3 separate regions of the Homo sapiens genome follow, and regions 1 and 3 are each linked to region 2. The links come from fine-mapping of genetic effects on gene expression. A gene starts in region 2. Each other region holds a variant in brackets. All regions are shown on one strand. Distances are between the middles of the regions.

Region 1 (5,863 bases), 64 kb before region 2:
ATGAACAAAATGTGGGGAACAGGGAGAAGAAAGACAGGAAATGGAGGAAGAACAGGAGGGAGGACAAAACAGGGAGACAAACCTCACTCTTCAGAGCAACCTGCCTCTGCACATCAAGCAGCTGCTGCTTCTCCCTCCGGGCGGTCTCCTCCTTGCAGGGAAGAGACAGGATTTTCTGGCTGACTGCAGACCCCAGGTCTGAGGGGCAGAGCCTGCCCTCTGCTAGAGAAGCTATGACTCTGAGGTCAAGGACTCCTGCAGATCCCTCACCTGGACCTCCAGCAGAGCCAATCTGGCCTTGACATCTTTAGCTCTGGTTTCAAGGTCCAACTCTAAATCCTGGAGCTTCCTTTCCTGCCCAGAAAGGGAAACACATAAGCATAGAAAGAGTGTAAGGCATTAGCTGAGGGGCAGGAGGGGGTTCCAGAACCCACCATGCCACACCACAACCTCCACTCTGGGCTCAGGCTTCCTCGCTGTGTGCCCCTGCAGCCTCCCAGGAAGGCTCCACACCTTGTTTACTTCCTGCTGGGGCAAGGAGACGCAAAGGTGCCAACCCCAATGCCTTACAGGGGCTGACCTCTAGTTCTAATCCTGAGTGTGTTCCCTGGCCCAGAAAACAAAGTAACAAGGATGCCCCAGCTTGGAGATGGCCAGTGAGAGACTCTCACTCCAGAAGCTGTCAGGCTGCATCCTGCTGGGGCCATGCGTCTGCTCCCAGCACCTTCCTACTGTGCATGGAGGGGTCACAGTGGGCTCACCCTGCCCCAGGCCCCTCACCTGCTCCCTGTGCCGGCGCCGCAAGTCCTCAAGACGCTTGTGTTGCTCCTGCCTCACAGTCTCCAGTTCTCGTTCATGGGCCCTCTGCAGGCGCTCCAGCTCTCCGGTCAGGTGCCCCAGAAGCTCAGCCCGCTGCTTCCTCTCCTGCAAGGAGGGTGGGCCCACCGGTGGGAAGCTGCGGCAGCCCCTTCTACCACAAAAATCACAGCTCCCCTAGCCCTGCAGCCTTGCATCAGTAAGATCAGGGACACCATCGGCTCCCTAAAGCCAGCTCTTGGAGAAGAGGAGGGTTACAAGCACAGCACCGGCCCTGGCCCCAGCAAGCCTGCAGCCCTCTAGAGCTGAAGCAGAGGCTGGTCAGACACCACGACAGATTCCCTTTCTGGCTCTCCCTATGGCTCCACCATATACAACTTTTCCTCTGTAAGGAATGAGAGGTCACTGATAAATTATCACTATTCTTCAGCAAGGTCATAATTGGTTGGGGGAAGGGATATGGCAAATTTCATCATGGGACTGCTATTTCTGCCCTGGGAAAGATCCTAGAAAGAGTCTGGGATACTGGTTCCAGTTACTGGAGCAGTAGTCTTAACACCCTGCAGGGTCCCAGCTGTGGGCTATAGTCAGCCACCCTCTACCCACCCATTGTTCACCCTCAATGTGAGCAAGGCAGGCCAGCTTGGGTAAACTCAAGTCGCTGAACTTTCCTACCTTAAGACCAAAGGCTTAAAATGGGGAGAATATCAGTATTACTTGGCTCTTGCCAGTCTATTTCTTGGTGTCCCAAGATGTTGAGGAACCCTGGTGACACAGCATTGCAGTGAGGAAACTGAAGGCTTTGGAGTCAGATGGCCTGGGCTTGAATCCTAGCTCTTCTACTTATTGGCTGGGTGTGATCTTGGGAAGCTACTTAAACTCTCCAAGTCTCAGTGCCCTCATCTTTAAAATGGAGACAATGATAGTAGATCCTTCCTAAGGCTGGTGTGAGGACTAAATGAGTTAAAATAGATAAAGAGCTCAGAACAGTTCTTGGCACACAGTACAAGCTCAATGTATGGGGGTTCTTTTTACTATCAGAAGAAAGTACAGCCTGCCTGATAAAAGAGGAATTGCCCCCCATTAGGTGGAGGTTTTTCTCATGTTTTAATAAAAAAGGCAAAAAACATCATCGTGGCAGGGTACCAGGAAGGAAAACCTCCCACAATCCCTGACCACAGTTTATCCCCTTCCTCTGCCCCACAGCCAGGTGGGAAGGACCCCGGGGTGTGTGTGCATGTGCGTGCATGTGTGTGTGCATGTGTGTGTGCATGTGCGTGCATGTGTGTGTGCATGTGTGTGCATGCGCGCAGGGGATGTGGCTGAGCTACCTCAGCTTCATACTGCTCTCTGGCCTTAGCCATCACTTGCTGGTGCTCCTCCTTCATCTTGTCCAACCTCCTCTCATGCTCCCCTTCCACTTCCTGGCGCTTCTCTCGCAGGAGACTGCTGAGCTGCAGGGGAGATGGCAGGGATGTGGCATGAAGAACCGAGGCGGACCAGCACTCAGGGCCTGCTGCACCTGAAGGTCTTACACACATTTCCCCAATCTCCCCC[A/C]ACACACACAACACATGCACATCACACAGCCATGACACCATGGTCAGCACACAGCCATACCCCAACACCCCCTCCCCACATGCATACAGGGGCATCAGATTGGAGGAGTACCTGGCTTCAAGGGAACTAAGGCATAAAAAGGGAACTAGAAATGCTAACCCCAGCTGAGCCATCCAAAGCAAACTGGAGGCCGCTGAGGCTAGGCCGGCTCAGCTGACTGTAAGAGAGTCCACAACAGGCGCACACGACTGTGGAAGACAGAGCAGCACTCACCTCGTGCTCATACCCAGCCACGTGATAAGACTTCTGGTGAACTCTGTGCTCCACTTGCCCAAGGCACTTCTGCAGCTGGGCCTCCTCTTTCTGTTGAGCTTCCTGTATCTTCTTCTGGAGGCTGGAGACCACCTGAGGAGGCCCCCGCACACACAGGGGAGTGTGACCCTCAGACAGACTGTACAGCTGCTGTGTGGGGATGTGTTCTGAGGACCTGGCATCCATCCCCCAGGGCTGGAGAGAGAGGCTCGCTGCCTAGTAGCCAGGGATGGGGCTGAATTCTGCTAATCAGCCATGAAGGGGGCCCAGGATGCTGCATCTTACCTCCCGGTGCTTGGCCTCCAATGAGGAGCAGAGCCGCTCCAGCTCAGCACTGTGCTCCTTCTCCAGCGTTGCCACAGCCTGGGGAGGAGCAAAGGGACTGTGAGTGAAGCTGGCCAGGTACTGATCATGGTGGGAGGCGGAGCCAGGAAGACTACCGACCCCCAAGCCCTCGAGATCAGGGTCAAGGGAAGCATGGGGAAGCACAGCACATCTTTGTTCCTCTGAAATAACTCAGCCCCTGAAGTCTACAACTGGCAAATGAACAGGAACATGAAGGTCAGAGGAGAGGGGCATTTCAGTAAGTTTCGGCTCTCTGCTCCCACCCCCTGCCTTTAGACTAGGCCACAGATCCACAGATGGTGCTCATGCTGGTAAATAAGATCCAAGCCAGGGGGGCCAGGTTGGATGCTGTCATTAAGTCGGGCCATGTAGAATTTTCTTTTTATTTTGGTGAGGTGCAAAGCTGCAGCTATTAGACAAGGAAAACACTACAGCAGGAGTAGGGAAGTGCACTGTACTACAAGTGCTCAGAGAGACTGTGCTAAAACCTTCAGAAGCCCACCATCTGACTGGAGTAGAAGAGGGAGTATGGACAAAGAGAAAATCCTTGCTATATTGCTAGCCTCTCATCCTAAGAAAGGAGAGAAAAGTGGGGAGTGAGGCCCTTGCAGCTGTCCCTCAGAGACAGTGAGGGACAGAGCGCCTTTGTCTCAAAACCTCTGGTCTGGCTAAATCTCTTTCAGTCACGAACTTTCTCAAATCCACAGGACGCTCTCCCTCAAGCCTCTGAGGGTTCTCTGCTTGACAACCTCCAGCCGCCACTGCCATCCAGCCTGACCCTGGAGGAGCCTTGTGATGCCTGCTGCATCCTCTGCCCTGTCATGAGCCGATTCGGTCCATATGGAGTAATGGGCCCAGGTGGTCATCTCGCTGTCTCCCATGCCTGTGTGTGTGAGACCTACTCTCCACCTGGCTCCCCAGCCTGCACGCCCACCCGAGACTTGCCCTTCTTCTCCTTGTGCACTCAGTCCCTCCCCAGGCAGCCCAGACACAGGTCAGAGGGTGAGGTCCCCACTTGACTAGCTCACTTCTTTCCTCTCCCCTTCCAGCTGCTCCCTCAGCTGCTGCAGAGCCTTCTCCTTTGCAGCATTCAGGGCAGCCTGCTCGCTCTTCTCCGAAGCCTCTATCTCTTCCTTGAGCTGCTCCAGCATTTGCCTATTTTTCTGTTCCAAGCTGGCCCTCTCAGCCTTCTGTTGAGACTCCAACTCTTCTCTCAGTTTCTGCAGGGAAGCCTCTTGCTCAGCCCTGGGTGGACACAGTGGAATGGTAACGGGCCTGTGCACCCTGGGGTCGCCTCCGCAGGGCTGGGCAGCTCACAGGTAAGCACACACTTACCTGATTTGGTCCTCATCTGCTTGTGTGCTGGACTGGACCTGAGCTCGGAGCCAGGATAGCCTCTGGCTTTCCTCCTCTCTCATCCGGGCCTCCTCCTCCTCAATGGCTTTCTGCAGCCGCTCCCTCAAGGAACTGAGATGGAAAGGAAAGGCTAGGTTGTCAGAGAAACCACAAAGGTCTTTCTTCTATTCATAAGCTATGGCTCTCAGCCTCCAATAGCCCTGTTGCCTGCCTAAGAAACTTCCTAAATCTTTTTTTTTTTTTTTCTTTTTGGAGACAGGTTCTTGCTCTGTTGTCCAGGCTGGAATGCAGTGGTGTGATCATGGCTTACTGCAGCCTTAAACTCCTGGGCTTAAGCAATCCTCTCGCCTCAGCATCCCATGTAGTTGGGACCACAGGCATGCACCATCAAACCCAGCTAATTGTTGAGATGGAGTCTCGCTATGTTGCCCAGGCTGGTCTTGAACTCCTAGGCTCAAGTGATCCTTCAGCCTCAGCCTCCCAAAGCACTGAGATTACAGGTGTGAGCCACTGCGCCCAGTCAAAGCTTCCTAAATCTTAAAGATGAGTCTAACCTTAGCCTCTAGGTCCACTGCTGCCTCCCTAATACCTCCCAGGATTACGAAGGGACCATGAACTCCCCTTTGCTTCAAGAAGCAAACTAATGGCCGGGCGTGGTGGCTCACACCCGTAATCCCAGCACTTTGGGAGGCCGAGGTAGGTGGATCACTTGAGGTCAGGAGTTCGAGACCAGCCTGGCCATAATGGCGAAACCCCGTCTCTACTAAAAATACAAAAATTAGCCGGGCATGGTGGCGCACACCTGTAATCCCAGCTACTTGGGAGGCTGAGACAGGAGAATTGCTGGAACCTGGGAGGCAGAGGTTGCAGTGAGCTGAGATCACACCACAGCACTCCAACCTGGGCAACAGAGCAAGACTCTATCTCCAAAAAAAAAAAAAAAAAAAAAGCAAACTACTGGCTTCTGGGTTTTGGTAGTACAGCACTTCTTCCAAAGGCTCCCCTCTGTCAACAGCTTCACCTCAGCATGGCACTCACTCAAGGATAGCTATAGCCACCCAACCAGATTCCACATTCTTTCACTCCGACAGACTCTGTTCTAGCCACATCAGCTGAGTCACCATCCCTCCATTCTACCACACTCTTCCTTCCTAGGTTCTCTGCCAAGAATTCCCTTTTCTATCTGGCAAACCCATATTCATTCCTCAACACTCAGCTCCCTCTCTGGGAAGTCTTTCCAACTCCCTACAAGCTCATCAATTCATCTTTCTGTTCCCATCACTTTACATGTGGACCTTTCTTATCCCATGCTACTCTGCACCATGCGTCACATGGCATCATAATTCATCTTCTGTATCTCTGTTTTCCTTGCAAGTCTGGGAGCTTCTCAAGAGAAAGAATCTTGTCTTAAAATCTGTTATATCCCAGGTACCACACATAGTAGCTGACATAAAGTAGGTGCTTAATAAATTAATTG
Region 2 (8,513 bases):
TTTTTTCTTTCTTTCTTTTTGAGACAGAGGAGTTTCGCTCTTGTTGCCCAGGCTGGAGTGCAATGGTGCGATCTCGGCTCACTGCAACCTCCGCCTCCTGGGTTCAAGCGATTCTCCTGCCTCAGCCTCCTGAGTAGCTGGGATTACAGGTATGTGCCACCACGCCTGGCTAATTCTGTATTTTTTTAGTGGAGATGCAGTTTCTCCATGTTGGTCAGGCTGGTCTCGACCTCCTATCCTCAGGTGATCCACCCGCCTCGGCCTCCCAAAGTGCTGGGATTACAGGCGTGAGCCACCGTGCCTGGCCAATATTACTTTTTTTATGAAAATGTGTCTTCTTACCTCTCCTGTTAAACCACAAACTTCTGAGGGCCATGTCTCCTCCTCTGGAATTTTCCAACAAAGCCTAAAATAAGCCTATGTAAGCTGTCGGAGCTCAGTTACTGCTGTAACTGCTAATATAAAACCAAGGAATAGGCCGGGTGTTGTGGCTCACACCGGTAATCCCAATACTATGGGGGACCAAGGCCTAGGATCACTTGAGCCTAGAAGCTCAAGACCAGCCTGAGCAATATAGTAAGACCCTGTCTCCACAAATATATATATATATATATATATTAGCCAGGCATGGTGGCGTGCACCTGTGGTCCCAGCTACTCGGAAGGCTGAGGCAGGAGCTATGTGATCAGATGGAAAGGAAGACAGAGTTACATAAAGAGTGTAAAGTGGGGAGGCAGAGGTGGGAGGATCACTTGAGACCAGGAGTTCGAGGCTGCAGTGAGCTATGATTGTACCACCATACTCCAGCCTGGGCAACAGAGTGAGACCCTATCTGAAAAAAAAAAAAAATACACCAGCAATCTCAGAAGCTAGGAAGACCCGCAGTAGTTTTGGTCCACCTTCCTTCCCATGCCAAAATTTTCCTCTCTGTGCTTCCAGTGACAGGCGGCATAGTGGTCAAAGTACCAGCTTTGGAGACAGAAGACCTGGATTCAAATCCCAGCTCTCTCACTTAGCAGCTGTATGACCTTAGGCAAGGTGCTTCACCTCTCTCAGCCTCAATAACTGCATGTGTATAATTAAAACAATCTTAACAAAAATCAAAAAGCCTGAAAGTAAAATGAAACAACACTTATAAAGTGCCTAGCACAGTCCCTGTATACAGAAAAGTTACACAAATTTAGCTAGTATTACAGATTCTATTTTCAATTCCATAGTTAGATAATTCTTAACTATTAGAAGGTCTAATAGTAAGCCAATAATCAGGTTCTAAAAAAATGTTCCCTGGTATCTCAAGTCTGCCTTCTGCTCATCTGGGGACACCCTAGGATTCTCTAGCTAAGGTAGGCTAAGTATTCCCAGTTCTCTTCCATTCAGTACATATCGTTTCCCAGTCCTTCAATATTGTGGCTACCTTGCCCTGTACTTTGTCAGCATAGCTAGAGTTTTGCACATCTGCACACTAACAGAGAATATACACTCACAGACATAATGAGGGTTCTCTGTATATTTATTTCTTCCACCCTGCTCCAACAATTACAAAGAAGGTTGACCACAGAAAAGATTGACTGGAGAAGGTAAAGGGGAGAAGGTGGAAGATGTCAGAGTTGATTACGCAGTGGTAATGAGCAAAAGCTTTGGAACATTCTTGGCTTTCAATCCCAGCTCTGCCTCTTACTAGCTGGACAGCCTCAGTTTTCTCATCTATAAAATGAGAGTACTAACAATATCCATCACAATGTGTTGTGAGGCTTATATGATTCAATACATGTAAAGTGCTTAAAATATACTAAGGTCTCAATAAATGTTAGACATTACATTATTATGACTGCTATTCACCTATTTAAAAGGGTTTATTCTACCTTGCTCCAAAGGACATATCCAGCACCAGGCAATATAAGTTAAGGCCATTCAGACATTAAGTAATCACTTTTTCTTTGCTTTTTTTTTGAGACAGAGTATCATTCTTGTCACCCAGGCTGGGGTGCAATGGCACGATCTCTGCTCACTGCAGCCTCTGCCTCCCAGGTTCAAATGATGCTCCTGCCTCAGCCTCACGAGTAGCTAGGATTACAGGCGCCTGCCACCACGCCCGGCTAATTTTTGTATTTTTAGTAGAGATGGGGTTTCACCATGTTGGCCAAGTCTCGAACTCCTGACCTCAGGTGATCCGCCCGCCTTGGCCTCCCAAAGTGCTGAGATTACAGGCGTGAGTCACCGCGCCAAGTAATCACTTACTGAACACCCACCATGGGCCAGACATTGTGCGACGTGTTAGGGCTACAAACCTGATTACACATGGCCCTGAACTTGAGCTCAGCCTACCTGGAAAGCCAAACACGTAAACACATGACTACAAAATGTGTTACATGAATTAAAGGAAGTAACATAATATATAACAGAACACAAAGGTAAGGGCAAATAATCTTAGGAAGATCAGGGAAAGCCTCACAGAGGACAATTGAGATAGTTCTTGAAGGATAAGCAGGTGATCCCCAGGATAAGCGGAGTAAGGGAATTCACGGCAGAGGAACAACATGCACAAAGGCAAAAAAGAAGAAAATCATAAGGTGGGTGCAAAGAATTAATTATGACAACAAAAGCTTATAGCCACTGAACACTTCCTATGTTACAGGAACTGTACTGAGTGCTCTATATACATCATCTCACTTCATCCACTCAGCAAAATAGAATTATCTTCACTTTTCAAATAAGGAAACTGAGGCTTAGCAAAGTTAAAAAAAAAAAAAAAAAAAAAAAGGCCAGGCGCAGTGGCTCACGCCTGTAATCCCAGCACTTTGGGAGGCGGAGGTGGGCGGATAATGAGGTCAGGAGATCCTGACCAGCCTGGCCAACATGGTGAAACCCCGTCTCTACCAAAATACAAAAAATTAGCCAGGAGTTGTGGTGCCCACCTGTAGTCCCAGCTACTCGGGAAGCTGAGGCAGGAGAATCGCTTGAACCCAGGAGACTGAGACTGCAGTGAGCCAAGATCGCACCACTGCACTCCAGCCTGGGCGACAGAGCAAGACTCTATTTCAAAACAAACAAACAAACAAACAAACTTGCCCAAGGTGTCACAGCTAATAAACGGTAGAGCAGAATATGTAAGTATCCATGTCTGACTCCAAAGCCCAAACTCTTAACCATTCTGACATGACCAGAGTGCAAGGGACAGTGGGAGGAGTGGCAAGACAGAGCTCTAGAATGAAAGGCAAGAGCATATTATAAAGGGCCTGGAAGAACAGAGGCTCTATCCTGTAAATGATGAGGGGCCATCACAGGATTTCACAAAGGAGACTGGCATGACCAGATCTGTAGGTCAGATAGACGATTCTAGCCAAGAATAGTGGTGCATGCCTGTAGTCCCGTCTACTAAGGAGACTGAGGTGGGAGGATGGCTTGAGGGCAAGAGTTCGAGGCTGCAGTGTACTAGGGTCACACCGGTGAATACCAACTGCACTCCAGCCTGGGCAACATACCAAGACCCTGTCTCTAAAATAAATAAATGATTCTGACAGCTGCATAAGAACTAATTACAGGAGGACAAGAACTGAGGCAGAGAGACCACTTAGGAAGTTATCCTGAAAGCACAAGCAAGAAATTATGAACTAAGTCAGTGTCTGTGAGGATGGAAAGGAAGCGCCAGATTCTAGGGGAATTAAGAGGCAGAATACAGGACTTGAACTTCGGGAGAGAGGAGGGAAATCAGAGCACTAAAGCCAGAACACTGTGACTATCATTTCTAGATGTGTTCATTTCTATGCCTCGTCCAATAGGCAGCCCCACCTACTACACTGCCTAGAAGACAGGGCATGTCCGACAAATGTTTGCTGTATTTATTAGATGAATAAATTAAAGGGACAGACTTGGCTGAGTGAATGGTGAAGCCCTTCATTGAGATAAAAAAATACAAGAGGAGAAACAGATCGGAGGGACCGGGGAAGGCTGACGATGACAGTAAGCAGGTCTGAGCTCAGGAAAGAGGTCTGGCTGGAGTAGTTTGGCGAGTCAACGCTGAAAAGCTGATAACGCAAGAGATGGAGTGCGCCGAGTAGAAGGGAGCTTTCTACTGCCAAGGACTGAGTTAGGAGAACGGACAGGGAGTCGCTGAAGCCAAGTGAGGAGAGCGGTGCCAGAGGTAGAGGGACATTTTTAAATCCAATGCAAGAAAAGGAAAAAACAAAAAAGCTTTCCAACTTTCCCAGCTGGCCAAAGATGGCATAAGATTGGGCTAGCCCCGGATTTGGACCCGGGGGGAAGCCTGCCACAGAAGTATCCCAGCAAGCTTCGGAAGGCCTGGCCTCACTCGCCAACGATGAACAGAGCAAGCAAACCAGGGCCCCGTGCCCAGTGCCCCTCTCCCGCGTCCCGACCCGCTGCTCACTCACCCGCCAGACCCCCAGCCCGGGCCCGGTGGCCCGCTCAGGAGCCGGCGAGATTTCAAACGGAGGAACTGTCGCCTGGCAGTCCGATTTTCACTTCTTCCCTCAGTCCCCGCCCACACTCGAGCGCATCACGCTCGTTGGCTCGAGAGCGTGCCTCGGGTCCCCCGCCACGCTCGCTCCCTTCCCCGCCGCCCAACCCCTCCCTCGATGAGGTCCTCAACTATCCCCCACCCCGGAAGGCTCCGGGCGAGGCTCCGGGCGAGGCTCTGGGCGAGGCGCAGCTCCCCCAACGCCACCCAACACCCACCCGCTCCCCCAGCTTCCAGGGACGCCGGGGTGTTGCCCTGCAGCGCGCAACAAACACTTCCGGAAAAGGTACCGCCTAGCAACCGGGAGTCCCGCCTCCAGCAGGAGCCAATAGGTCGCCGGCTGAGAGCTGTGACAATGGATTGGCTCGAAGTCCCTTCGGTGCACGCAGGAGCTCTGTCCGTTTTCCGTTGCACGATGGGAGTGTAGTTTAAGATAGATAATGGGAATCCGCAAGAGGTTGAAAGAGTGTAGTTTAAGATAGATAATGGGAATCCGCAAGAGGTTGAAAGAGAACCTCATCGGCTGGGCGCGGTGGCTCACGCCTGTAATTCCAGCAATTTGGGAGGCCGAGGCGGGTGGGTCACCTGAGGTCAGGAGTTCGAGACCAGCCTGACCAACATGGTGAAACCCCTTCTCTACTAAAAAAAAAAAAAAAAAAAAAAGAGGACCCCGAGTTTAGACGTGAGGATTTCTGCCAGGACAGAGAAGGACTATTTAGAGTATTTATACTAATGTGAATTATCTAATTATCTAATTGATCATTTGTTAGGAGTATGATTAACATCAGGTGAATAATACAGTGGTCATCAATAATCAACCCATTGTTACTTTAATCAACAAAACAAATGTGAATGTAAGGTAATGGAGACGCGTCCACTCCCCATCTCTCCCCGCAAAAAAACTGGCTCTCCTGTGCTCCTATTAAACCAGTGAGCACCTGACCAGGAGTTAAACCTATTTTCTACTATCCATCTTTTCACCAAAGCCCAGGGTTCAGTTTGTATGTCTGCAAGATGGGGATAGTAATGTCTGTCATAACTATTTCAAAGAGTCTATTGAAGAAGAAAAAAAGTGACACAATGTGTAGCTCCTCCACACACCCTGTCGGGCAGAAAGGTTGCTACTAATATAATTCCGAAGAGTTTTAGTTTTGCTTGCACGGAGGGCAAATCTTCCTTTCTCTCATATGTCTCCAACCTCCTAGAGAAGTTAAGAGGGGCAAAGAAAGTTCTGGCCATTACATCAATAGGAAAACTGAGAAACAGACAAATACAGATGCTGCTAGTTGAGGAGGAAAATGATGAGGCCAAGCTCATAGAGCCGCTCCTGATAGGTTCTAGAGATGTAGCTGACTCAGGATAGTCCCAGTGCCACTCAGAGGCTGATTCCAGGATGAGAAACTCAGATTGTTGGAATATACAGAGCATATTCCTTGTGAAAATTATCAAAATCAAAATAGAGTCATTTGTTTTAAAACCCTGACAAATGGAGCCAGGGAAGACCATGAAGAGAGGGTTCTCACGCATGAATACCTGATAACAAAAACTATCGACCGGGCCTGGTGGCTCATATCTGTAATCCTAGCACTTTGCCAGGCACAGTGGCTCACACCTGTAATCCCAGCACTTTGGGAGGCCAAGGCGGGTGGATCACCTAAGGTCAGGAGTTCGAGACCAGCCTGGCCAATATGATGAAACCCCGTCTCTACTAAAAATACAAAAATTAGCTGGGCATGGTGGCACACGCCTGTAGTCCCAGCTGCTCAGGAGGCTGAGGCAGGAGGCTGAGGCACTTAAACCCGGGAGGTGGAGGTTGCAATGAGCCCAGATCAAGCCACTGCACTCCAGTCCAGCCTGGGTGACAGAGCAAGACTCCGTCTAAAAAAATAAATAAAATAAAAATTCCTACTTGAGCCAGGCACAGTGGCTCATGCCTGGAATCCCAGAACTTTGGGAGGCCAAGGCAGGTGGATCACCTGAGGTCAGGAGTTAAAGACCAACCTGATCAACATGGAGAAACCCCATCTCTACTAAAAAATACAAAATTAGCCAGGCATGGTGGTGCATGCCTGTAATCCCAGCTACTCGGGAGGCTGAGAGAGGAGAATCGCTTGAACCCAGGAGGCGGAGTCTGTGGTAAGCCAAGGTCTCGACATTGCACTCCAGCCTGGGCAACAAGAGCGACACTCCGTCTCAAAAAAAAAAAAAAAAAAAAAAGGTCCTACTTGCCCAGCCTCTATGGCATGTGTATACCTATTGCAATGCTACTTCTAAATAAATATCATTTTCTTTTGGAGTTTCCCTCTCTGTTATTTAGATTGACGTCATCATGTTTAAATTTAAATCCTTCTGCAGCAGTTATGCCTATACTTCCTTTATTCTTACTGTAAATGACAAATCATCGTCCCCTTTCCTCTCCATCTTCTTTAAAAGTCTTGGCCGGTCACAGTGGCTCACACCTGTAATCCCAGCATTTTGGGAGGCCGAGGCAGGCAGATCGCCTGAGGTCAGGAGTTTGAGACCAGCCTGGCTAACATGGTGAAACCCCATCTCCACTAAAAATACAAAAGTTAGCTGGTTGTGGTGGCAGGCACCTGTAATCCCAGCTACTCGGGAGGCCGAGGCAGGAGAATCGCTTGAACCCAGGAGGTGGAGGTTGCAGTGAGCCGAGATCTCGCCATTGCACTCCACCCTGTTTGACAAGAGCGAAGCTCTGTCTCAAAAAAAGAAAAAAGTAGGCCAGGCTGTGGTGGCTCACACCTGTAATCCCAGCACTTCGGGAGGGTGAGGCAGGTGGATCACCTGAGATGAGGAGCTCAAGACCAGCCTGGCCAACATGGCAAAACCCTGTCTCTACTACAAACACAAAAATTCACTGGGCGTGGTGGCACACACCTGTAGTCCCAGCTACTTGGGAGGCTGAGGCAGGAGAATCGCTTGAACCCGAGAGGCAGGGGTTGCAGTGAGCCAAGATCACGCCACCGCACTCCAGCCTGGGTGACAAAGTGAGACTCTGTCTCAAAAATAAATAAATAAATAAATAAATAAAGGTCTCACTGAGGGGCCAAAGGGACCAGACTGGGAAGGAATTCTGGGCTCACCAGCTCATCTACCACAAACCTGCACAAAACAGGGATTCAAAAAACCATTTGTAGACTTGGTCCCTATATCTAAGAATTTGCAATCTTTGCAATCAATCTGGTTTTTTGTTTGTTTGTTTGTTTGCTTTTTGAGATACAGTCTTACTCTGTCACCACCATGCCAGGCTAATTTTTGTATTTTTAGTAGAGACAGGGTTTCACCATGTTGGCCAGGCTGGTCTTGAAATCCTGACCTCAGGTGATCCACCCACCTCGGCCTTCCAAAGTGCTGGGATTACAGGCATGAGCCACCACGCCCAGCCCTGTTGATTTTAATTGCCATCCAAATGCTTAACTCTTGTGCCTTAGCATGGGTTCCTTGCTCTCTCATGGGAAGAGCTAATAAAATAAGAGATACTGTGGGATTAACAGGATTACCTTCACACAAATCAACAATTTGCATTTTATCAGGTTTCCCCATAGGTTTGTACTCAGAAATGCAAGCCAATTTATAAAATGCCCCCAAGGCAAACATAATTTAAAAAGTAAGACTTTGGGGGGAAAATAACAAAAATGACACACAAATTTTTTTTTTTTTTTTTGAGAGGGAGTTTGTTGCCCAGGCTGGAGTGCAGTGGTGCAATCTCAGCTCACTGCAATCTCTGCCTCCTGGGTTCAAGCGATTCTCCTGCCCCAGCCTCCCAAGTAGCTGGGACTACAAGCATGTGCCACCACACCGGGCTATGTTTTGTAGTTTTAGTAGAAATGGGCTTTCATCATGTTGGCCAGGCTGGTCTTGAACTCCTGACCTCAGGTGATCTGCCTGCCTTGGCCTCCCAAAATGCTGGGATTACAAGCATGAGCCACTGTGCCCATCCTGACACACTAAATGATATACCAGTAATATACCCAATGAGTGAAGAAGAGAGAGAGGACTTCACTCATAGGTTGTCTTC
Region 3 (8,513 bases), 91 kb before region 2:
CTCAATCTGTAGCCCAGGCTGGAGTGCAGTGGCACCATCTCGGCTCACTGCAACCTCCACCTCCCGGGTTCAAGCAATTATCCTGCCTCAGCCTCCTGAGTAGCTGGGATTACAGGCATGCGCCACCACACCCAGCTAATTTTTGTATCTTTGGTAGAGACAGGGTTTCACCATGTTGGCCAGGCTGATCTTGAACTCCTGACCTTGTGGCATCTGTATTTTTAACAAGCGAAATGATACCCAAGTATTTGTTCATTCACCAAATACCCAGAAGCACTTCCAATGATCTGGCACTGAGCTGGGCACTGGAGATGCAAAGGCCCTGTGGGTCTCTTCCTGCGCTCAAAGGCTCACTCCCCGGAGTGTGCGCAAACTGGCGGAGGCGGAAGGAGGGAAGCCTGGGTCAGGGAACAGCAGGGAGGGTTTGCTGTCTGCCAAAGCCTCATGATCCTCCACAGTGCACAGTTGTTGCGGGGAAGTCGCTACGCATCCCGTGACTACAGTTCCAGGCCCCCGATTCTCAGAGAAGGCGATGAGACTGAGCTTTGACCAGCGGAATGTGGCATAAGTGATACACGCTACTTTCAGGTCCAGCTCATAAAAACTTCCCTGGCCACCCTCTGCTCTCTCCAACTGTAAGTCAATGCCCAAGGTGAACTTGGAAGCCACTTATTGAAGATGGCAGATCCTCTATCACCCTGGCTTATACATCGATGTAGCGCAGAGGCCCCTCTATCCCCTTCAATGCCAGCTGGACTTTATGTGAGCAAGAAATAAACTTGCAGTAAGCACCGATACTTTGGAGTTTATTTTACAACAATTAGCATCATCTTAATTTATGCAGGAGATGAAGGGGAACTTGGCTCCCCATAGAAATTCTCCCTTGATAGATCAGGCCCAGGGCATCCTCCCCCGCACCGCCTGCCATACCATGTCACCCACCATACCATGTCACCTCCTCTTACCCTACATATTGGATTCCTATACAGGTAAAGGGTGGGAAAGGCAAAGGGAGACGCTGGTGAGCTTAGAGAGGAGGAGGGCATCTGTGTGTCTGTAGGAGAAGGGTGGGAGAACCAGGCTGAGCATGAACCCTGAGTCAGGGCTCTGTCCTTCCTCCCAGAATCCATGTCCTCTTCTGGGCAATGACAACAATACTCTAGGCCGAAGGAGGAATAGATGCCAGCTGGATTACCCTGGAGGTGATCCATACTTGGTTTTAGTGTCTCTAAGAATCGCACAATCTCAGGACTCAAAGAGACCTTCAACGCCACCTGGTCCACGCTTCCACCCAAATTGGGAATTCCATCTGCAATCAGCAAGAGTGGTCTGGCCTTCCCGTGCACACCTCCTGATGGAGAACTCATCACTTCCCCAGCCAGCACATCTCACCTGTGACAGCTCTAACAGCAAAACCTCCCTCACACTAAGCTTGGGTGGCCCCTCCAACTTCTACTCACAAGGCTCGGTACTGCCACTCCTGGGGGGCACCACAAAACAAGTCTCATCCCTTCCCAACTCAGAAGCCCTCCACAGATGGTATTTGAACATCGTCCTCAGCAGACAGGCTCCCCAAGGGCAGAGAAGGGTTCCACTGTCTCTTCCAGAGAAGGGACAGTGCCTGACTTAATAGGAGCACAACATATGTTAGACATAGATGAACAAAGGGTAAACAGTGGGAGAAACGGGCAAGGAGTAGACCAGTGAAGGCCGAGATCTCCTGAAACATTGGTTCTCTCCGCATAGTGTCCCCAAGTTACAAGAAAACAACACAACAGAATACCATCATGCCTGCTGCCGTTTGCTGAGAGTCTACTTGAGTCAAGCACCCTGATAACCACTTAGCACGGATACTCTCCTAGTTTTACCACTACCCTGTAAAAAAGAGTAACTCCTATAAGCACAAAACCCAAGTGGTGGTGTCTCAGGGCCGTAGTGCCAGTCAAAGAACCTCAATCCACTCAGCCACCAAAACGAAAGTTTTAAATAACTCAAGTTATCTGCTTTTGTTTTTGTGATCCTGAAGGGGTCCGAAGAGCAGATGTAAGTGACACCCGCTGACACCCTACGGAGCCTGTGCCTCCCACATCCCCCCACACACTGCCTGCTCTTCTCCAGCCCTGCTCAGCTCCGCCCTCCTCTCCTCTGGGGAATGTTCTCTCACATTCATTTCCCCCCATTTTCCATTAGGAAACAGCAACAGTTGGGCATAGGGGAGGCAGAGGAGGTGGGAGAAACCGCAGGCAAGGCAGGCCTCCTCTTTGGTGATTCGTGGGAAGGATCTATGGATGGGAAATTAATGTGTTTGTAATTTCTGCCCTGAAGATGTGTGATCTCCATTTTATTGGCTAAGAAAGAAGTCAAAGAGGTCAGGTGACTTGTACAAGGCCACTCAGCCGGCAAGAGGCATCAGCCAGGGTTTGAATTCCAAAGCCGGTGCTCACCAAACCACTTCGGATCCTTTCCAGAAAGCCAGGCGGCCCCCAGAAGGCGCCATGTGTAGAGTTCCTACTATGTGGCGGGCACTGCGATGGAAACGCAGGGGCTGCGGAGTCAATCCTGCTGCTCCCTTGCCAGCTCTGTGACCTCGGGAAAGCACCTTCGCCCTCATGGGCCTCAATTTCCGCTTCTATGAAATGCGAGAATAACTCCCATGCTGCCAGGTTGATAAGACTGAAAGGAAATAATGAGGTTAAAAAGCTTTTAACTATGAAATGGGGATTAGACAAGATACAAACCAGCAGACCAGAGGGTCAGATTCCAGAGAAGCCAGGATTTGCCTCATCTGCCCAGGTTTTGTTGTTGCTGTTGTTGTTTCTTCTTTTCTTTCTTTCTTTTTTTTTTTTTTTTTGGTCAGGGTTTTGCTGTTGCCCAGGCTGGAGTACAGTGGCGCAATCATGGTGCGCTCAACCTGGAATTCCCGGCCTCAAGCGATCCTCCCACCTCAGCCTCCCGAGTTGCTGGGACTACAGGCGAGGAACACCATGCCCAGCTTTTGTTTGTTTGTTTGTTTTCCTGCCCAGATTTGTGTCCAGGGAAGCAGGTGGGATATGAAGGTCCCTTGCTGCCCTAGAGAACCTACTGAAGCTCACCAAGAGGATTCACAGCCTGTGCAGAAAGGGAAGCTCTGAAGGCCTCTGATGTCCTCAAATTCACTGTCATCAGTCCCAACCAGGAGCTAGCACTGGGCCCCCAACTCCTGGGAGTCACCAGAAAGGGTGGACGGCGCAGTAAAATGCCACCCCATCCATGCTGGGCCAATGCCTCACCTCCCCCAGGAGGCATCACCCAGATGGTGAGCTCTGCCCTAAGACGTCCTGCCTCTGTGGGTGCCATTCTTTCTCTCTTGAGCTCCACCCTTCCTGGGCCCAGTGGAGGTGGATGGCACCATTCCAGGCATGGCCCTGCGTGTCCCCAGCTGAGCCCCGCCAGGGCCTTTGTGACAAGTGGCATCTCCAGTACGCGCTGACTGGACACATCCGGGCTCAGCACCCGGGCAGCCACCACCAGCCACCACTGCGGCCAGCCGCCTCAGACCAATGCCCCGCACGAAAGCCAGGCCTCCAGCCACCATGGGGCTCTGTCGGCAACACCAAGGGAGAGGGGACTTGGCAGGTCCTGCAAGCTTAGACTACAAGTCTCCCATCCCCACCCTCCCCCAGGCATTTCTACAGTGTCTGACTCTGCCTGACACCCTGGGTCCTGCCCACCTCAGCCTCCTTCCCCAGGAGGCACAGGTCCCACGCCTGCCAGGCTCTGACACCCCTCCATGGGGATTCAGAGACTAGAGGAGTGCACGGTGGATTTTGGGGCACCAGGGGTGTCACCGCAGCCCAGCCCAGACTCCAAGGAACCGCCTGGGTCAGATCGCCCTTGAGCCAAGCAGGGATTCCTTTTAGGAGTTAGGGCCGTTGTAGGGCTTCAGGGTGTCCCTGGGCAGAGCTTAAGAAAAGGGTAGGGTCTGCAATGCCAGGGAGTGGGAGGGAATTCATCACGGGCCTTGGGTGCAGGAATACCTACTGCTTAGGGAGGTCTCCTGTGTGCTTGGCACTTCCCAGGCGCTGGGGGCATGGGGTGAGGAGAACAGGCAGCCCAGCAGATGTTCCAGGGTGCATGGAATGAGCTCATTCTCAGATGAAGACACCGACGCTGAGTCGCTGGACAGTCACTTGTCCAGAGCACAGAGGTGGTCAATGGCAGAGCCACAGATCTGTCTGACTGCTCCCAGGAGGAGGTTTCTGAGGAGGGGAGCACCCGGGCACTACCCTTACCATCTTCTCTTTGTAGCTACAACAGAGTGGATGCTGTTGTGGCCCCAGGGCCTGCCAACTTTCTCCAAGAGGAAATGGGGCTGAGGATGAGACAACAGCTATTTATTTGAAGGCACCACCGCTGTCTTGCCTTTAGTCAGACTCTGCCGGCCTCTGAAGCCGAAGAGAGCACGTAGGAGGAGGAGAAAGGGTAGGTAGAGCAGAAGGCCTTCCCTGGGGAGACCTTCCCTCTTCACAC[A/G]AAGAAAGAGGCTGCCCCGGACCTCCTTCTCAGCCCCCAACCTCGCCCTCCAATCCCTGTGCCGGGAGGGAGGGCGCATACTCATGAGGGTGTGCAGTGTCCACACAAGTGCCTACGTGAACAACTGCACTACAGGCCATTGGTTTGCACTCTCATTCTGCAACCTAATAGCTTAACCTTCCAAGGCTCTCTCGCTTTCTTTTTTCATCTTGTAAAATGGAGATCATTGTCTACCTCATAAGATTGCTATGAGGATCTTTGAGAGCTGTAGATAGGTAAAGGCCTTTGCACTGGCTGGTAGTAAGCAAACAGAGGCTACTTTATTAGTAAGAGGCCCTGTGAGAATCCAAATGTGCATGCACTACACTTTAACCCCTGCATGTGCATACACTCATGTATGTTCATAAGGGGGACAAGCAGCGGACGGGAGAGGGTTCTGTGACCCTATTTCATTCTATCATGTGGAAGAAGTAAAGGGACATTTTTTTCTGTGTGAGTCCACAGCAGAACTGTAAGAGAAGACTCCCCCTCAGCCAGTTCAGAACTGCTCAACAGCAGGACTGGCTACCTCAGGGGTGATGAGCACCTTGTCCTTGGAGGCATTCAAGCAGAGGTTCAACAAACACTTGCATTTCCACAACACTCTGTAGTTTACAAGGTGCTTCACCCAAAGTACTTGTCCTAGGTTATTTCATTCACCCTGTGTGTGTGTGGTATCTTCTGCTCCATTATACAAATAAGGAAACTGAGGCTTAGGCAGAGGATCATTTCCCAAAGATACTCCACTAGTGCCTGGGCGTCAGAATTTGAGCCCAGGTCTTTTGGAGGCATGAGATAGAGCCTTGAAGCCAGCCTAACATAATAGGTAATCCAAGAGAGTCCCAGCTCCATTCCCTACCTTTGCCCCTTTCCAGGCCTAGTGCCTAAGCTGCCCCAGCAGTGGCCCTACAGGGGGACGGGTCACTAGGAGAGCGGTGGAGCCTATTTTCTCAGTCTCCAAGGTCCATGCAGCGGGTAGGCGTCGGCTCCTCGTGGGGAACCCCAGGAGACCGTCCTGTACTCCAACCTAGGGCACCGTCTCAAGCCTGACAGGCTCTGTTCTGCCTCCTGCCTGCTGGCCCCAGGTCCTAAACTTTCCACTTCCCTCTCTCTCTCCCTCTCACATACAACTGGCCATGAAGAGGAACACAATCCCCCAGCAAGCGTTTTCTTTGCCACCTGTCTTGTCCTCTGTGTCCAAGACTTTTGCGGTTACTCATGGGAAGTCACACAGGTTGCAGTCTCCGTCATGGTTCCCGACTTCCCTGGCCAGGGCAACGGCAATACCAACAGCTCACATTTATTGAGGCCTTACTATGTGCCGAACACTGTTCTAAGGACTTCTTGCATCCTCACAACCTCTTTATAAAGGATAATGTGGAAATCCTTGTTCGATTCATAGCCTCCCTGCTTTTAACCCTGAGAGTGAGACTCACCCAACTGTCCCTCTGCTTCTTACCTCCCAAGAACGGGTATCCTTCTCTTCAGCAGGGGCAATCGGAAATGTCTCCAATGCCCTCTGCTCTACCCCACAGAGCAAAAGCCATGAGGCAGACTGACGTCTCCTATCCTAGAATTTTTAAAACTAGGAGAGCACTACCTGCACCCCATCCTGCCCGAGCCGGGAGAGGAACTGTGCTTCCTGGAGATGGAGGCAGCCCCTCCCAGGCGTGCTGCCCACCCACAAACCATTTCATCACAGACCAAAGGGCCCTCCCTGTAGAGTTAGAAGGCTGCTGGAGAGAGAGTAAGGTTTCCAGGGTGGGGGCTATGGCTGAGCTGACTTAATGAAACAGCAGCTGTCTCTCACCTCCAGATCAATCATCCCAATGATCCAGATCCAGTCCCCCTATCTGATCAGAGGTCAGGGCCAGGGGGAAACAACTGACATATGGATTTGGATGAAAGTGATATGGGTCTTTCAAGAAAAAACAAAAGGGAGAGGACATTAACCAGCTGATTTGACCCAACCAAGGAAGATGGGAGGCAATCCTTCCTTCAGGGCCATCTTGTCCTAACCCTCGCCTCCAAACTGGGGTCATGGGTCCATCCCAAAGGTTATGTGCAGGAGCCTGTTCTATTGTTATGCTCTCAGGCACCAGCACCTCCACAGACACTATGCAACCCATCACCTTTTGCTCTATTTCAAGGAGCGCTGGGATCCCAACCCAAGCCTGAGGGTCACAGAGAGCATGGCTGGGAGCCTCTCAACAGTCACACTAGCCTCAGAGACCCTGGAAAGGGAGAGAAGAAACTATTGAACTCTCCAGGGAGTGTGCCTTCATAGGGCCCCATAGGGAAGGGGGATCAGGACTTTGAGGGCTGCTGGGCAAGGAGACTCCTACACCCTCTCTAGAAGAAATGCTACTACATCTTCTAAAAGCACTGACAACAATCAGGGTGATAAGTTTGATGGGGACAGTGTAATATGACCCCAAAACCAAGAGCTGGGGTTCTACTCAATGTAAGACATGGACTTTCTAACCCACAATGGAGCTAAGCGTGCTATGGGGTGTGTGCGTGTGTGTTCGCCTGTGGCCATTTCCTCTCCTCCCACCTGATAAAAAATGTTGGCAGATTCTAAATTACAAAGACTCATATTTACAAACGTCTGCCGTCTCCTCAACCCTACTGTGATGTGAGGAGTGCTTATCACTGCAGGGCACCAGCACCTCTCTCCTTCTTTCAGGGTAGCTGTGATATGTCTCAAATAAATTAAGCCTCCCATTTCATTTATTTTCTTTCTTTTCTTTTCTTTTTTGGAGAGACAGTCTCACTCTGTCGCCCAGGCTGGAGTGCAGTGGCGCAATCTCGGCTCACTGTTACCTCCGCCTCCCAGGTTCAAGCGATTCTCCTGCCTCAGCCTCCTGAGTAGCTGGGACTACAGGTGTGTGTCACCACGCCCAGCTAATTTTTGTATTTTTAGTAGAGACAGGGTTTCACCATGTTGACCAGGATGGTCTCGATCTCAATCCACCCATCTCGGCCTCCCAAAGTGCTGGGATTACAGGTGTGAGCCACCTTGCCCGGCCAAGGCTCCCACTTCAATGGACTCATTTACTAGAAACAAACTAGGTCTTTGATAATGTGTGTGCTGGCCCGTGTGAACCACCAGCTTCTTGGAAGGGGAAAATAAGAGTGCCTTGTTTTCAAACCAAAAAGAACTAGAAAAGAAGGGAAGGCCTGTCTTCCTCTGGCTGTGGTAGTCCATCATGGAAAAGAGCGTTACACTGCCCTTCCCTTGGGGTGCTGTGTGACATACCTGCTGGAGAGGGCACATGTCACAGGAGGGCAGGCAGGGGAAGCAGGCAGGAGATGCAAGAGGAAAGGAGAAAGAAGGGGACTTTCCAATTCATCAGGACATGGCTGATAGCAGGAACTCCATTTTTTAACCATCACTTCCCCACCTCCCCCAGAAAAGCTGGTGGTGGGATAAGCAATCCCCTCTCAGCACACCTCCCCACCAGAGCCTTGTCTTGGCCCTCCAGCAGCCCTCTGGATGAGGCCAACTCCCCACCCAAGGTAGACCCCTCAGAGTTGCTGAAGCAGAGGCCGCTACCCTGCTTCATTCCCAGAGTGTGGGTTCAGGCTTAGAGCTTGTGACCAGGGAAGACACAGGAACGGAAAGGACTTGTTCAGGTGACAGCTTGTAGGTGGCAGAGTCAAAAGTAAACCCAGGACGGAGGCCAAGATTATTTCCCTACACCTCATACTGCTATTTTGTGTGGGAGTTTACTGGAGGGGCAGGGAGGCGGGAGGGGTCAGTGGCGGGCGCCTATCATCTTTCCCAGCATTGTTCCCTTAAGAAAACCGTCAATCAACCACTCACGACAGAGCTTGGGGCAATCGTCCCATCCTACATTAGGAGTGACCCATACTCCACCAGTAATAGGGAAGAGAATCATAAGTGTCCCTTCTTTTTATTTGCATAAAATCTCCAGAAAGAACTGGTAGTATTTTTTACC

The links. PIP is the estimated chance that this variant, and not a neighbour inherited with it, causes the effect. A credible set is the group of variants that fine-mapping cannot tell apart.
Region 1: its variant is the best candidate, but not a certain one, in a credible set for the expression of CEP164 in whole blood (TOPMed, PIP 0.52).
Region 3: its variant is the best candidate, but not a certain one, in a credible set for the expression of CEP164 in whole blood (TOPMed, PIP 0.57).

Annotation. Positions count from the first base shown.
Region 1 is chr11:117,389,411-117,395,273 of GRCh38, reverse strand. It overlaps CEP164 (centrosomal protein 164), which reads right to left. Exons shown (of 33, transcript NM_014956.5): 16 at 4,366-4,497; 17 at 4,059-4,275; 18 at 2,971-3,048; 19 at 2,647-2,778; 20 at 2,148-2,270; 21 at 781-924; 22 at 271-354; 23 at 83-151. Among named protein-coding and RNA genes, the nearest start is that of CEP164, 64 kb to the right of the region's middle. The variant A/C (reference allele first, on the strand shown) is at 2,374.
Region 2 is chr11:117,324,087-117,332,599 of GRCh38, reverse strand. CEP164 (centrosomal protein 164) reads right to left here and starts at 4,746. Exons shown (of 33, transcript NM_014956.5): 1 at 4,696-4,746. RefSeq lists a silencer at 4,429-4,678.
Region 3 is chr11:117,415,232-117,423,744 of GRCh38, reverse strand. No RefSeq gene overlaps it. Among named protein-coding and RNA genes, the nearest start is that of CEP164, 92 kb to the right of the region's middle. RefSeq lists an enhancer at 2,984-3,484. The variant A/G (reference allele first, on the strand shown) is at 4,510.